2 separate regions of the Homo sapiens genome follow, and region 2 is linked to region 1. The links come from fine-mapping of genetic effects on gene expression. A gene starts in region 1. The other region holds a variant in brackets. All regions are shown on one strand. Distances are between the middles of the regions.

Region 1 (8,349 bases):
AAATTGTGACATCAAAAATTCAAAATGTGGGAGGAGAATGGAATTAAGTGTACAGTTTTTTTATTTTTCCTTTGCTATCAAAGTTAAGTTATTTTAAAATAACTTGTTAGATGTTTTTTTGTCAGCCTTACGGTAACCACAAAGCAAAAACCTATAATAGATATATTAAAAATACAAAGCAAGAAATCAAAACACTACTAGAGAAAATCATTTACACACAAAGGAAGATTGTAAGAGAAGAAAGGGTCCACAAAACAACTAGAAAACAGGTATCAAAATGGCAGCAGTAAGCCCTCATCTATCAATAATTAACTTGAATATAAATGAAATACATTCTTCAATCAAAAGACATAAAGTGGCTGATTGAATAAAAAACAAGACCCAACTATCTGCTGCCTACAAAAGACTCACTACACTTGTAAAGAGACACATAGATTGAAAATGAAGAGATGGAAAAAGATATTTTATGCACATAGAAACAAAAAAAAGAGTAGGAGTAGCTATACTTATATCTGATAAAATAACCAAAACTTTAAAATGAGATAAAGCCATTATATAATGATAAAGAGGCCAGTACAGCAACAGGATATAATAATTATAAATACATATGTACTCAACATAAGAGTACCGAAATATATAAAGCAAATATAAATAGATCTAAAAGGACAAATATACTGCAATAAATAATTGTAAGGAACTGGAATAGACAGATCATCCAGACAGAAAATCCCAAAGAAACATTATAATTAAACCACATATTAGACCAGATGGATATAACAGACATTTATAAAACATTCTGTCCAACAGCTGCAGAATACACATTCTTCTCAACAGCACATGGAATATTCTCCAGGAAAGGTCATATGTTAGGCCACAGAACAAGTCTCATCAAGTTTAAAAGAATCAAAATTACATCAAGTAGCTTTTCTGACCACAATGGAATAAAACTAGAAATCAATAACAGGAGGAACATTGGAAATGGTACAAATACACGGACATTAAACAACATCCTCATGAGCCACTAATGGGTCAATGGAGCAATTAAAAAGGAAAATATTTAGAACATTCTTGAGTCAAAAAGGGGGAACATGATATACTAGAACCAAAGGGATACAGCAAAAGCAGTTTTAAGAGGGAAGTTTATAGCAATACTTGCCTACATCAAAAAAGTAGAAAGATCTCAAATAACCTAACATGGCAACTCAAGAAACTAGAATAACAGGAGCAAACTAACTCAAAATTAGTAGAATGAAAGAGACAAATACACAGGAGAATGCCATTTGAAGACACAGGCACATAGAAGAGAGAATGCCACGTAATGACAACACAGATATTAGAGTTACGTATCTGCAAGTCAAGGAATGACAAGGGTTGCTGGCAATCACCAGAAGCTGGGAGAGAGAGCATGGCTTTTCAGATAGGACAATGATTTTTGGACTTCCGGACTCTGACACTTTGAGCAAATCAATTTCTAAGGTACCCAGTTTGTGGTACTTTGTTATGGCAGCCCTAGGAAACTAATACAATGGAAATTTGGGCAGGGAATGTAAGAAGATGAGCTAGTTTATAAGATATTTTATAAGATAAGGTAGCTTAAGAAAGCTGGCAGTGACAATATTTTCTCATATGTAATTGCCAGTCATATGTAAAGAAAGATGGAAGGAGAGAAGAGATTGTAATAGAAATTAACAATAAAATAAAAAGAGATAACCAAGAGAGCTAGATTTTTAGATTAGGTAATAGAATTTGATCGAAGGATTCTGCAGTGGTGTTGAGTTTAGAAAAAATTGGCTGAGTTTCCTCTGGGAAATTAGAATGAAATAGAGGTATGTGGAGGAAAACTTCTGCCAAATTGCCTCTGATTGTTCATTAATATAGTACATTTACCTGCTGAAAGCCATCGTGCTTTCAGGGGTCAAGGACTCAAGAGTAAGGAAGAGTTTGATGAGGAGGTGCTAGTTGGTATTATGTAACGTGGATGTGCATAAGCCTAAATCTGGAGTATTTCAACATTCTGACTCTGTAGCAGAACTGTATAATTATAAATATGTAAAGGCTAAGAATGAAAAGGGTCCAAATCCTATTATAAATGTGTAACAGAGACCTGAGGATTTTATATGACCTCTCCAAGGGACACAGACAATGAGTGACAAGTCTGCAATGCAGGTCTCAGACTCCCAACTGTACCGTATTGGAGATTGAAATCCCTAAAATTATTGTCTTAGCTTGTTTTTTATTGCTATAACAGAACACCACAGATTTAGTTGTACCCAGCAGACTGGGTAATTTATAAAGAAAAGAAACTTATTTCTCACAGTTCTGGAAGCCGAGAAGTCCAAGAGCATGGCACTGATATCTGGTGAGGGTCATCCCACAGTGGAAAGGTGAAAGGTGGAAGCATGTGCATGAGACAGAGAGAGAGAGAATTGGGCCTAACTCATCCTTTTATCAGGAGCCCATTCCCAAGATAATAGTGTTAATCCATTTATGAGGGTGGAGCCCTCATGACCTAATCACCACTTCTAAAGGCTACACTTCTCAATGCTGTTTCATTGGTAATTAAATTTTAACATGAATTTTAGAGGAGACATTCAAATCACAGCAATTATGGAAATAAAAAATATTTTAAAAATTTGGTGATTAAGAAGGGTGTATGTCTGTATTATAGTATGATTTTAATTGTTTTCCCCACCCATTTAAGTGAATATTACCATTAATGTCTGGGATCGGAACCAGGTTAAGTTTCATGTTTTCTATTTCATGAACTTTTACTTCTAGTAATGATTTTGCCTGAATAGGAAGAGAAATGTCACTAACAACAAAGGAAAGCAATTAAAGTATGCTTCCTTTGTTGTTAGTGACATTTACAATTAAAGGAACCATTTATTTCCATATTCCTAATGAAAATGGTAATCATTTGAAGAGTCTCTGAGTCCTTTACCCTTTCTGTCTCTGTCACTTTCATGAATGGGCATTAGCTTCTGTATGCATACCAAGAAGTGTATTATTATAGTTAAAATCACATAAAAAGATTTTCAGGGTTGATAAAGAGGCATTATTTGCCATTCTGAGAATATCCAATTTAGTTGTAGCTGAAAAAAAAGTAACAAAATCATTAAAGTTATGCCATCTAGTCTATACCACTACACTTTTTAAATGGGTATCAGATATCATTGTCTTGATTAGCACCATTTTCATAGTGGTAGTTAAGAGTGAGGGATCTTGGAGTCCAGATACTATTCTGGACTCATCTGTTGGCTTCACACTTATTTAAACATCTGCAAATAACTTCACCTGTTAGCCCCACCTTTCAAATTTGTTTAATGGATGTGAGTAGAGTACCAACTTTGTAGGTTTGCTTTGAGTATCAAATGGGAGAATTCATTTAAACCCTTAGAACACTTTCTAGTACATAGGAATTAGTGAATACAAGGAACCATTTAACTGAAATGCAGTTAACTTTCAGATGAAACTTTCTCATTGGAATGATTCAGATTTCTGAGATGAGCAATCCTCATTTTCTCTCTCTCTGTTCAACTTTATCTTTAATTTGCTCCTTTTTTAGCTTGGCTGTCAAATTTTTAATTATTAAAAGTCATGCAATTGTAAATATGTAGTTATCCATGCAATTGTAAATATGTGGGTTTTTCTTTTTGAATTTGATCTCTTTTTTTGTGTGTATGCCAAAAAGAGCAATAAACAAATACCAATGATGCGCTCAGCCAACAATTCATTACACTCTCTGAAGAGTAACTGGACAAGGAGAAAAACATAGGGAAAAAACCAACAGAATTTGTTGGCATGTTCTACACACAGACCATGGCTTTTCAGAAGCCAAGCTGAATCAAAACAGTTTTAAAAGAGGCAACCATTTGTAGAGGAGTCCTTGAAGGATTCTTCATTGTTTTCTTGGACAAAAAGAGACCAGTGGATCCAAGTGCTTCAAATACTTCTCTCTTATTTTCTTAACTGTAAGTTAAAATTTGTTTTACATTTTCACTTTGCATAAGGTTTTAAAGATATAAAGTATATAGCCAAAGCCAAACATATTGATTGAAATTTTTAAAATTATATTATTCAGATGCTCTAAATTATTTTATGCTTTATGTTATAGTACTAGTGAGTTATTTTATTTTAAAAACTTATGTAACATTTTAGTGTGATAAATGAAAGATGGCTAGATTCAGAGGTGTATATAAATATTATCAGACAATAAATTCTCTCTCTGACACTGCTTTGAATATCCTTTTGAGAATTTGTATGGTTTTACTTCTTTAGAATGTGTGAGCATTAGGGCAAGTTCCTTTTTTCTGTGTTCTTTTGTTCTTTTAAAATGTTTTTGTGGTTTGCTTATGGAGCTGTTTAAGTAGACCTCTGTATCCATAAAGTGAAGATTGGTGTTTTAATGTTTCTACTTTCTTAAGTTAGAATTTAGAGATTATATTGGGTTTTGCTGGCTTTGCCTTTTATTTTATGAAAAAGGGGAAATATAGCAAGTTCTCTCTGAACATTGTAATTTGTATATAATATCAACATTTATTCAAATGGACTTCAGTAGTCATAGTTGTGACACCAAATGATCAGCTCTGGATTTTCAAATTGAAAACAAAGAATAAGGATCATTATTACAAATCAATTACTCTAGTCATATTAGCCAATATTTTTGGTTTTAATCTGTATGTATCTTACATATTTACTTCATAAATGGAGATTTAAAAAAGAGGAATTAGCTTTTTGGGATTCTAAGAATGGCCGTAATGTTTTCGACTTTGCTTTGCCCAGTGGTTAACAAGATATCAAATACATGTGCCCAGATGTGCAATTCAAAATAAGACAGCTTGTGGTCAAATTGCTGACTGACAAGGAACTGCAAAGTGGTTTCTTCCTGTTAAACTTCTTTTTCTTAACAAGTAAAGAGAAAGTGTTTTTTGGATTCTAAAAATTACTAAGATCTTATTGAGGGATTTACTTTAGGTGGATGTAATGTTAAGATTTCATGGAAAAAAAGTGACTTCTGAGACAAAAGGAGAAAGGTCTTATATACTATCTCCTTTATCTCCCTCATAGCCATAAAAGCCTGGAGAGAAATAACAACTGAGAAGACATTTTATAATTACTAATACTTTATATTCTTTTTTAAAATCCTGATTGAATATGTTGCTACAGTGTCATATAAGGCATTTAGTTGGCACATCTGAAAATTATGCTTTCAAAATGTTCAAAGGCTTTCTGTAACTGAACTTTTTTTTTTTCTTTTTTCCCCTAGCTATTGCTCTGCAATATTTACTTTACCCTGTTAATGAACAGGACAAAATGGTTAAAAAAGAGATAAGCGTGCGTCAACAAATTCAGGCTCTTCTGTACAAGAATTTTCTTAAAAAATGGAGAATAAAAAGAGAGTTTATTGGTATGATTCACTATATATATATATATATATCCATAATTAATAAATGAAAATCCACCATATAGTATTATGCCATTTTTATTACTTTTCTTGTTTATAAATTCTGATTTTTAATTATCATACTGGCTAGTTGATTTGAGATTCTAAATACTGCAAAACGATATATATTTTGCAAAATAGGATAATATTTGTGTCAAATGTGAAATTAACTAAAAAGCTCATCTGACAGCTCCTGAAAAATAATCTTTTGCAGAATAGAACCAGCCATTTTCCACATAATTAATGCATTCAAATCTCAGAGTCATTCTGATTTACTCTTAGCTAACTTCTGTGTTGGGGGCAGGGACAGCCAGGGGAAAGATAAGCTAGGCAAAATAAAATAGATTTTTACGTGGGCAAACCCTGATACTATTTGGGGACATTTCGATTAATGTCATGTTATTTGGTAAGGCTGGGAAAATATCTATGAGTAAAAATCTGCAAACTTTTTTGGAATCTCTTCAAAGCCGTGCTTTTTGTAAACATAGAATGGTTTCATGGAATAAGATCACAGATTGTCAATACCTTTGCATTCTGTTGAGTTTCTTGTATGCTGACATGAATATTAAGACATTGCTTTGTGTTACTATGAGATATAACTGGATCTGCCTTGACCATGTAGAGATTGCAGTCTGTTCAGAAATAGTCAGTACCATTTCAGTGGGAGCTAACAGGATTTATATCATCCTTTTAAATTTCTGCAATAGCTTCCGAAGCAGTTCGATCAAATATTTTGCTTCGTATATTGAAGAAGGATACATCTATATTTATTACTCACTAGAATTTAAAAAAAGTATGTCAATCCAGAAATGTGAAAATATTGGTACAATGAACACCTATACATCCACCATCCAGATTTGACAGCTGTTAACATCTTGCCATCTTTGCTTCATCTCTCTGTCTCCTCTTCTTCCCTAAAATATATGTAATGGCTAAATATTTTAGTATCTCAAAAAATTAAGAACTTGGTTCCCTACATTACCACTATCCCACTACACAAAATTAAAAATAATTCCATATCATCTAGTTCCATGGCCAAATTCAATTTTCCAAATTTCCCCCAAAATGTCTTTTAAGGTTGATTTGTTCAGGAACCAATGAGACAAAACTAGTTATCCTGTTGAATATTCCATGTTCTCTTTTTATCTGATTGCCTCTCCATGCTGTCATTTAAGTCATCCCTTTATCATCTATATTTTTTGTAAGCAGTGAGCTGGATCTAAAAGCAGGATCCAATTCTGGTTAAATATTTTTGGCAAGAGTATCTTCTGTGTGATGCCATATACTTACGTTGCTTCAAATATGAGGGCATAAAATCAATGGCAGTCCCACTAATAGGGGTGCTAAATCACTGGGTTAAGATTGATTGCAATTGTTGATATTATCTCAAAAGTTGTGTATTTTTGAAAGGGTGTTTTTTTCTTTAAAAGGTAGATATTAATTTGGGCAGAAAAAAATTACAGACTGAAATGAAGTCATGCTCAATGGCAATACATTCTGCCTTAAAAATGTGTTTGGATGTTTCTCACTGGTCTGGACCACGTTATAACATGGCTCATTTCTCTTTTGTGTGCTGGAGGAATGGACAATAACATTGTTTCTAGGGCTATATTTGTGCATCTTTTCGGAACACTTCAGAGCTACCCGTTTTCCTGAACAACCTCCTAAAGTCCTGGGAAGCGTGGATCAGTTTAATGACTCTGGCCTGGTAGTGGCATATACACCAGTCAGTAACATAACACAAAGGATAATGAATAAGATGGCCTTGGCTTCCTTTATGAAAGGTGTGTTGTCCAATAACCAATGTTTCAGTATTATGTGACTTAATTTTCAAGTTCTTTTTGCAGGTTGAATTTACTTACCTAGCCTGTGTGTCAGTGATTCTCAACTGAGGCAAAGATTCTCATTATATATGCAGTACAGGGGTTGGTGTGAAGCTAAGGGTAGGTGGGCAACAGATGAAATGATTTACTTTTGTTTGTTTGTTTGTTTTTAATGATATGCATACCGTTTGCCCTTTATACTAGAACATATTGTTGCAGTAGGAAAAAAAGATTGGACCCATTTTAGATGATACAAATTTCACTTTTCCAAAACTTAACTTAAAAAACTTTATATTTGGGTTGGTATTCTATAATTTAAAGAGTTTCAAAAAATTTTAAGGATTTAATTATTTTCAATTGAGATTGAAATAAATATAGTTCCCAGTATATAGGAATTATAAATCAAAGGTGTTTGAAATTCAAACTCAAGCTTAGCAATGGTGTTGAAAAAGCATTACTGTTTGGTGTATAAAAATAGTTAAAATGTACAGCTCAGGGCATTTAAAATTATTTAAAATCAAATCAGGTATTGGCTACTGAAAGTCAACAAATTCACAGCCCTTGATCTTAGAGTAGTGAGGCTTTTTTTTTTTTTTTCCCATAAGACTTTTTCTGCATATCTGGACTCAGAAAATAGATGTCTCTATGTTATGTAGGATGCTGCATTAATTTGATGTATGCATCTCATAAAGAAATAAGAACACCTGAGAGTCCTACTTACTATGTGAGACCTTTGCCTACCATCCTTTATATCTCTACTGCCATTAGGAGTAACTATTGGTGGTCAGCTGTGGTCTCTGGACTCTCCATAGAGGCCTTTGCTCCTGCATAGGGAAAGTATCAGGATAAAATGTTCTTTTCTTCAGCAATCTTAGCCTACTATCAAATTTCTCTTGTTGTTAGCCCTCATTCTGCCAGGGTTCTGAACATTGGCCATTTCATCCTTTTGTACATTTTATCCAATCTGTTAACGTCTCAGCTCTAATCACTGCTTTTTCTTGTCTTTCTGAAACTTTTATTTAGTTTTTTGGTGTCTGGATTGCCATGCCAAGGGACACCTCCAAACTCTGAATTTTAATTATT
Region 2 (8,349 bases), 140 kb after region 1:
AGGAGGAGTCATTGGAGGGTTTTAAGCACAGTGATAAGTTCAGGCTTATGTATTAAAAAAGTAGCTCAGGATACTGTATTGAGAACAGATGTTTAGAACAAGAGGGGCAGAGATAGCCCAAGTAGGAAGGGGTTGCAACAATCCAGGTGAGACATTATAATGACCTAGGCCTGGGTGGGAGTATCATGAGTAGGGGTGAGAAATAATTGGGTTATGGATAATTTTGAAGATAGAGTAGATAGAATTTACTTACAAACTGAATATGGGTGGCGAGAAGAAAGGAAACAGGTTTCACTAACCTGGATTGTGAATGTATAGCTACATTTCTCCCCCAGCTTATGAGAATGATCCACAACTATTTACCCAAAGACAAAACACCACCAACTTAATTCAAATATTTAAATAATATTTGTGAACTTATGCCTAAATATAACTGTATTTCTTTGCTCATAGCCCTACTTTCAGACTTTGCTATTCGTTTTTGTTCTAAGATGCATGGAACTAAAATGTGGAAAGAAAAGAATGCGAAAAGATCCTGTTTTCAGGTTGGGGTGAAATTTAACTTTATACTTAATATCATATTTTAACATTCCTAGATGGTGTCTGTGCTATCATCTTGTTAATACAGATTTACATTTACAGTGGAAGCACATGTTGATTGTCATTAGGGAATGTGGATTGCTGCCTTACTGCCAAGAGATAGAACTCCCAGGCAGAGTTCTGGCTGTAAGCAGCTGTAAGAAACCTTCACTCCATCCAAAATTTAATAAGGACCCAAATATGCCATTCTCTCGTCTGAGATAATTGTGCATCCTTGAAAAGAAAAGATGGGAAGGAATCGATTTAGCAACATAGTTGAGTGTTTTAAAAATGGAGGGCTGTAGAAAGGGTGAGCAGTAAATGATGTTGAAAAAACATCTGGTGTGATGAAGATGAGCTCAGACTGAGTAGAGAAAATGAGAGTGACATGAATTTTAAAGAGAAAGGAGCAGTACCTGCTGACAGATTTGAAAGGGTCAAAGATTCTTACCAGAAGAATGGCAACAACATTAAGAAAAGGATTCTGGCTAGTGGGACAGGAGTTCTTGGCAAAAGCAGAAGCAATATTGACAGTCATCATCACATCATCACCTGCACATTAGAGAAGAGGACAGTAGTAAAATCACAGGAATGCTGATTTTTGACACATCTTTTAACAGCTAGAATACCACATGTAACACATTTCATTTTCTCCATAGAATTTCCCCCCAAAGTAGAGATGCTAAGCCAAATCCAGAAGAACCCATAGATGAAGATGAAGATATTCAAACAGAAAGAATAAGAACAGCCACTGCTCTGACCACTTCAATCTTAGATGAGGTAAAAAAGCAAGGGGCAAAATGGATATTAATGGAGATATTCAAGAACTGTCAAGAGCAGGATTTGATACACTGGGTTTCATTTTGAGAGTTTGGAGTTTGGTGCATTTCTGTATTATGCGTCCAGGACACTCCAAAGAAGTATCTGCATAATCAAGGCACTCCGCTTATTCAGAGTGTCCTAGAAGCTAAAAAGAACACAAAACCTAATGGTTTTAATTTTTCTTTTGAGAAAAGTGGGCTTTCATAATTAGGGCTATAATTGCAAAACCAACAAGACCTCATGAGTTAAATAATTTAAGTTAGATTTGTCGAAGAATGCGAAGAATGCTAAATAGAGATTAAGATTTTAAGGTTTACTCTATTTGACTTAGATGTGATGGTTCCATGAGGTTAGCCACCCCTCTTCTGGCAAGACAATAAGCTGCTTCCATGAAACTCAGTCTATTTAGAAGCAAGAAATATTTTCTACATTAATGAATGCATATTACATTTAGCAGCATGAATTACTCTCAACTCAAAATATGGTTTGGCTTATGACATAAGGCATGAAAGGTTCCAGCAGAGACCTAAAGTCTCTGAAATTTAAGAGGAAAATCATGCTGTCATCTCTTCTAGAAACCTGTTATAATTGCCAGCTGTCTACACAAAGAATATGCAGGCCAGAAGAAAAGTTGCTTTTCAAAGAGGAAGAAGAAAATAGCAGCAAGAAATATCTCTTTCTGTGTTCAAGAAGGTCTGTAATAATCCCTTTTAAAACTTACCATTACTTTTAGAACTACCTACCGAACATCTATGTCATAGGCACAGTTTTACTCGCTGAAGCATTCATTCATTTATTCTATATATATATATATATATATATATTTAGTGTGCCAGGGAGTGTTTTAGACTCTGGAAATACAATTATGAAGCCACTAGACAAAGAGCATCCAGGTAGAGGAAACAGTGAGGGCAGGGACTCAGACACATTTGGAAACGTTGTGTCTCTAGCCAAGAGGCCAGTGAATGCATCCATAAATGGAAGGGATAAAGCTATAGAGCTGAGCAGCGCCAGATTAGGTACAGCTTTTGAAAACAGCAATGAGTTTGTGTTTTATACAAGTTAGCATAATACCATTGGAGAGTTTTTAGCGGACTTGTGTCATATTTAATTTATATTTTGAAAAGATTACAGATTGGCTATTGTTTGTTTGTCAGTTTGGGTTGGGGGGGACAAGTTCAGAGGCTTTTATATCAGTTGGGATGAAAGATGATGGTAACTTGGACAGAGGTGGTTGAATTTGGGATGAAGAAAATATCCCTAACTTCTCAAGTTTGAGAATCATTCATACATGTACTCAGTGCATCGGCCATCTATTACGGAAAACAGTTGGACACATTTCCAACTGAAACAAGTAATCTGGGGGGAAAAGGACAGATGTATTGACATCAAATTCATTAGCTTTGCAGTAACATTTGGCATAATTACAGAAAATAAAGAACATGCTTTGGTGACGTGGATTACATATATGTTATCAATCTCAAAATGGTACTAACTGAAGGGTGCAGAAATCTCAGAAGATTTCACTGGAGCAAAAGGTTTATGTTGTTCAGTATTTCACTTCCAATATTGATAGTCTGATTCTTTCTTTCAGGTGAAATTTTGGGATTGCTAGGACCCAATGGTGCTGGAAAAAGTTCATCTATTAGAATGATATCTGGGATCACAAAGCCAACTGCTGGAGAGGTAGTGAGGAAATGGTTTCCATTTCCAAAACAGGAATTTCATGATACGTATAGATTATATCTTTGTAAGACTATACTATTTTTCTTTTCTTTTTTTTTTTTTTTTGCCTTTGGATAAATTTTATTTTTCCCCTCTTTAAATTTTTACTGGGCATCAGGTGTTTATAACAGGACTTGGAATCTTACCAGAAACCAATTACCTTTTACTCATCAGTTTCTCAAGAACTACCTGAGCTTATTAGGTCTCTTTTCTTCTCTGCATGTAAAACTATATTTTTATATTTGTACTTTAAATCATTTTCTGTAATAAATATATGAAGTAATTTCTATAGTATTTATTTGATGCTTAAACAATTTAGACGCTTATATATGTCAGTTTCTGGAGTAATTACGCTATTGGAATAAAGGCTGCATGCCTTTCTAAAGCTCTTTTATTTTTTTAGGTGGAACTGAAAGGCTGCAGTTCAGTTTTGGGCCACCTGGGGTACTGCCCTCAAGAGAACGTGCTGTGGCCCATGCTGACGTTGAGGGAACACCTGGAGGTGTATGCTGCCGTCAAGGGGCTCAGGAAAGCGGACGCGAGGCTCGCCATCGCAAGGTACAGACGGGACCTGCGATTCCTTTGTGTCAGAATGCAGGGAGACTGTAGCACTGATGATGAATTCACTAATAAAGAACCGAGAGTCAATATGCTATCTCCACCTTTCCAGAGTGTCAGTGGCAGAGCAGGGATGAGGGACAAGACCTGACTTCCTGCATCCCTGAATGAGAGATCTTTAAAA[A/C]ATGATTATATAAAATAATTGACAAGGAATAAGTGAACGAATCACCATGAATCGTCATCCATTTCAGTTTTCTAATTTAAAAAACCTGGAAATGAAATAATCATCCATTGTCAGTTTCTCATTCAGAATTCTAGTTTTTCCTAAAACTGTTTATGAGGCAAAAAAAAAAAAAAGTCTTTCATGTTCCAAAATAAACCAATCTCTTTTTTAAAATTATGAGTTAGGATTTTGACAATAATATTACTAAACTTCCCTCTAATGCTGTTACTGTTCTGTGTGCTTGGATTTTCCAAAAACCTTGTCTTGACCAGATATTCTCATTCTGTTTTCTGTCAGATTAGTGAGTGCTTTCAAACTGCATGAGCAGCTGAATGTTCCTGTGCAGAAATTAACAGCAGGAATCACGAGAAAGGTACGTGCGGTGTGTGATGCTCTATGGAGAGCTGGTGTGGTATGGCAGCAAACAGGGGTGTTTTTCTACATTGCAGTTGTGTTTTGTGCTGAGCCTCCTGGGAAACTCACCTGTCTTGCTCCTGGATGAACCATCTACGGGCATAGACCCCACAGGGCAGCAGCAAATGTGGTGAGCATCATTATACCCCAGAGCTGCGAGCATGCACATTAGGGAAGGTTGCATATTTTAACTGGTCTTGGAAAATCAGCCCTCAAACCCACTAGTTCCTGATTCAGTGGAAATAATTTATATTATCAGGAAAACAAATATTTAACCAGTAGATGATCTAATCTGCATGATGTTCACGTGGTATTCAGGTTAAAAAGACCCAACATTTTCTTGGGGTTTTAGGTTTTTAATGTGGACTGTTAAAATACAAAAATATTTTGCCTTTTAATTATTGAGATGTCTATAACTGTTTCTTCTTTTTTCCCTTCTACTTTGTTTCCTGGGAGACTATTAACTTCCTGACACAATTTTCCTGTTTGTTTTTTTTCCTTTTTAATGTGACCTGTCAAATTTGTTCCTCCAGTTTTTCTCGGGTTTATTCTTTTACTTACTTTTCCCATCTAGGATTTACCCTTTGGAATAATAAAATCTTCAATCTAGTTTCATATTGGTCACTGTCCGATACTTTTCCAACTTTAACAAAAACTTTGTTATGGTAATTTTATACAAATGTAGAGAATCGCTTATGAATCCATTATTCCCATGGACAAGTTTCAGCAGGTATCAATAGAACCAATCTCCTTTGATCTATATCTCCACCCACTTCCTTTCTCCACCCTCCAATTATTTTGAAGGAAATACAAAGCAACATATTCTTTAATTTATAAATATTTCAGTTAGTATCTTCAGAAGATAACTCAACTACAATATGATTAGCACATCTAAAAATACTTAAAAATGTTATTTATGTTATCAAAAACCTAGTCAGTACTTACATTGCACTATTTTTTTGCATTAGGATCTGAATATGATTCATATATTGTATTTTATCTTTTTTTTCTTCTGCACTTAGTTATTTTAAATACTGTTAATTTTTTTGCTCACTGCAGGCAGGCAATCCAGGCAGTCGTTAAAAACACAGAGAGAGGTGTCCTCCTGACCACCCATAACCTGGCTGAGGCGGAAGCCTTGTGTGACCGTGTGGCCATCATGGTGTCTGGAAGGCTTAGGTGGGTGTCTCTCCGAAGCCTGCATTTGATGCTCAAAATGAGATTTCCCATGGAAAGGGCAAAAATCCCTGTGTGTGGCTGGAGCCCTTCCGTTTGGCTTCCTTGGTGACACCTTTTCTTCTACATTTGAAATTTAAGAATAACATTAAAAAATTAAGGGCAATATTTTTTCCAACATATTCTCTTTCTTGCCCATAGATGCATTGGCTCCATCCAACACCTGAAAAACAAACTTGGCAAGGATTACATTCTAGAGCTAAAAGTGAAGGAAACGTCTCAAGTGACTTTGGTCCACACTGAGATTCTGAAGCTTTTCCCACAGGCTGCAGGGCAGGAAAGGTGAGACGGGCTTTTGATTATGGAGAAATATGGAGGGTTTATCCACTCAGTGGTTTCCTTTTTGCTGTGTGAGAACTTCATAGTGATTTGGCTTCATAATAAAAGTTAGGGACCTCAGAAAAGGATTTGTTCAGTATTCCAGATTATAAGAGATTGAGACCTACCCAGGAAGCTGTGTCCCCTGGGGCAGACCAGGCACACTCTCCTTGGCCATCCCAGGCTGATCCCCAGCTCCAGAGGGGTACTTGGAAAGACTTGGGAGAAGGAACTTCTAATGACTCAAACCCACACAGGACCACAATGGTGTCCTTCCTGGGCCTCCTCATAAACGCTTAACATATATAAATATTTAAAATTTAAAAGATGTAAATATTTAGGGTGAATTTTCCCCATAGGAAACAAATGGCAATTGAGATAATCAAAGAGTCTTTCTTTAATGGAATTTTCATACCTTAAAATAGAGAGTGGAAAGGGGTATGTGTGTATGTGTGTGTGCATGCCCACATATCTGTGTGTGTGTGTGTGTGTGTGTGTGTGTGTGTGTTTGTGTATGTCTGTATGTTATTTGGGGGAGGGCAAGAAGGTGGAGCAGAAACTGAATTTGAAATTCCCGTGGAGAGATAAGTACATCAAAAAATAGGACATAAAAGCTACTATTTTATTTTAGCACAGTGTAAATGTAATTAAATTTTCTAAGATAGATATCAGAACATGTAACTTTGTCCCATTCCCAGACGTTTGGTGTCACAAATCAGAGAAGTGGTTCTGATATAGGTGGGAAGATCAAAAATGATAAAACAGAAAGAGCAGTGGCTGGTCTGAAAAGGGCCAATCTTGGACATCTGGTCAACCTTAGTGCCACCTGGGAGCACCAAACCCCTGTTTGGGAATAAGCTGGGAATAGGGCATGAGGGTTTACAGCCAGAAGTAGCACACGGAAGCAAGATGCCCCAAATCAATTACGTCTCTTCCTTAGAGGTCAGGAAGTATTTTGTTAAAGTGTTTTATGTCCTTCCTCTACTGCAATCTCCAACTCTCCCAACCTCATATTATTCTTTACAAGTTAGACTTCTGGGAGGAGGGGGAATCAAGGAGATTCCGAGGTTTTTTGGTTGGCAGCCCAAGCTCTATTGATTTCCTTACTTCTAGATTGCCCTAGGGCCTAGAAAAAGCCTTCAGAATAAATATGTCTTCCTTACAGATCTTTCGCCAATATCAACCTCCATCTCCAAGATTTGCCACTATTTATGGTTTTACAAAATAGTCCTGAATTTACTTTTGTTTAAGTGTTTATATTTTCCATTGTAAATGTAAAGCAAATTGCTGGAAATGTAAGAAATAAAGAAAAAATTCATTCATTAAAAAAAACAAAACAATGAATTAGCTTTCTGATGACAAAGATGAACATTTATTTTGGGGTTAATTCCCAACCTAATTCGAACTAATCAAAGGGAATAGTTCAGAATACCTGATTTTCAACACGCAAAGGTTTTGCATAAGCTGAGCACATATATAATTATGCTGAGTTATTACCAGGAGAGCTGTCTGCAACAGCCAGATACCAAAAAGCAATTCAAAACAATGCTGTGATTTCATATTTAAGCCATACATTAATTTGCATTACTTTTATTTTAAGAAGAAAATTGTTGGTAATATCAATATTTATTCTGATGCTCATTTTCTCCCCTTGAAACTCAGAGCTGAAAACGACATCTTCCTGTTTTCAGGTATTCCTCTTTGTTAACCTATAAGCTGCCCGTGGCAGACGTTTACCCTCTATCACAGACCTTTCACAAATTAGAAGCAGGTAAGAGTGACCACATTCAAATAAATCTTTTGAAGAATCAACTAATACTAAAATAATAATTTAATGGAAGCTAATTGTGTAACAATTTTTTAAAATAGGGCTGTAGGGCATGATTTTTAAGAATTCTAACTGTAGGTAATGGTGAGATTTAATCCCAATTTAGGTTACTCTGACTCTGTGAAAAGAGGTTAATCTCCAGTGCAGGGACCGAAGCTGCAGGAAACACACATGCTTAACTGTTCTTACTGTGAAACCATGGCATCCCCCTCTAAAAGCCCCTCTGTGTGGCCTGCTTTGCCTACATGTATATAATCCATTCACACCAAGTGTCCCAAATTATTACTTTACTCCCTTTCTTTCCTTACATATCCACCTCCTTCCCACTTTTATCCCTCAGTTGATGCCCTTGCTTTATATTTCACTAATAAAATAGAAGCAACAGAGAAAGTTTCCATCCATCCATCAACCTCCTTGTGTCTGTGCAGGTGTATTTGGCCTTCCTATTTGAATGATAGCTTTGACCGTCCCCTGCATTGTGTGTAACTCCTTTTGCTGGTTGTAATTGTCCACACTCTCTCTCCTGTCATCATTTTCTCTGCTTTCAACCCCGTCATTCCCAACAGCAGACCATTGGGTGTAATTTCTCAGCACAGCATAATGGTGAAGAGCTCAAACTTTAGAGCCCATCTTTCTGGGTTCTCAG

Direction of the effects. Alleles are on the strand shown, and positions count from the first base shown. SD is a standard deviation of normalised expression in the study named.
In carriers of allele C in region 2, the expression in hippocampus of the gene that starts at base 3,728 in region 1 tends to be lower than with A alone (moderate effect, 0.42 SD a copy in GTEx).

The links. PIP is the estimated chance that this variant, and not a neighbour inherited with it, causes the effect.
Region 2: its variant is fine-mapped to the expression of ABCA10 in hippocampus (GTEx, PIP 0.99).

What each region holds. Positions count from the first base shown.
Region 1 is chr17:69,224,203-69,232,551 of GRCh38, reverse strand. It overlaps ABCA10 (ATP binding cassette subfamily A member 10), which reads left to right and starts at 3,728. Exons shown (of 39, transcript NM_001377321.1): 1 at 3,728-3,971; 2 at 5,267-5,407; 3 at 7,023-7,227. The coding sequence starts at 7,194.
Region 2 is chr17:69,080,363-69,088,711 of GRCh38, reverse strand. It overlaps ABCA6 (ATP binding cassette subfamily A member 6), which reads left to right. Exons shown (of 39, transcript NM_080284.3): 28 at 454-545; 29 at 1,239-1,359; 30 at 1,977-2,094; 31 at 2,996-3,087; 32 at 3,530-3,684; 33 at 4,205-4,280; 34 at 4,357-4,451; 35 at 5,381-5,500; 36 at 5,699-5,839; 37 at 7,567-7,646. Among named protein-coding and RNA genes, the nearest start is that of MIR4524B, 15 kb to the left of the region's middle. The variant A/C (reference allele first, on the strand shown) is at 3,869.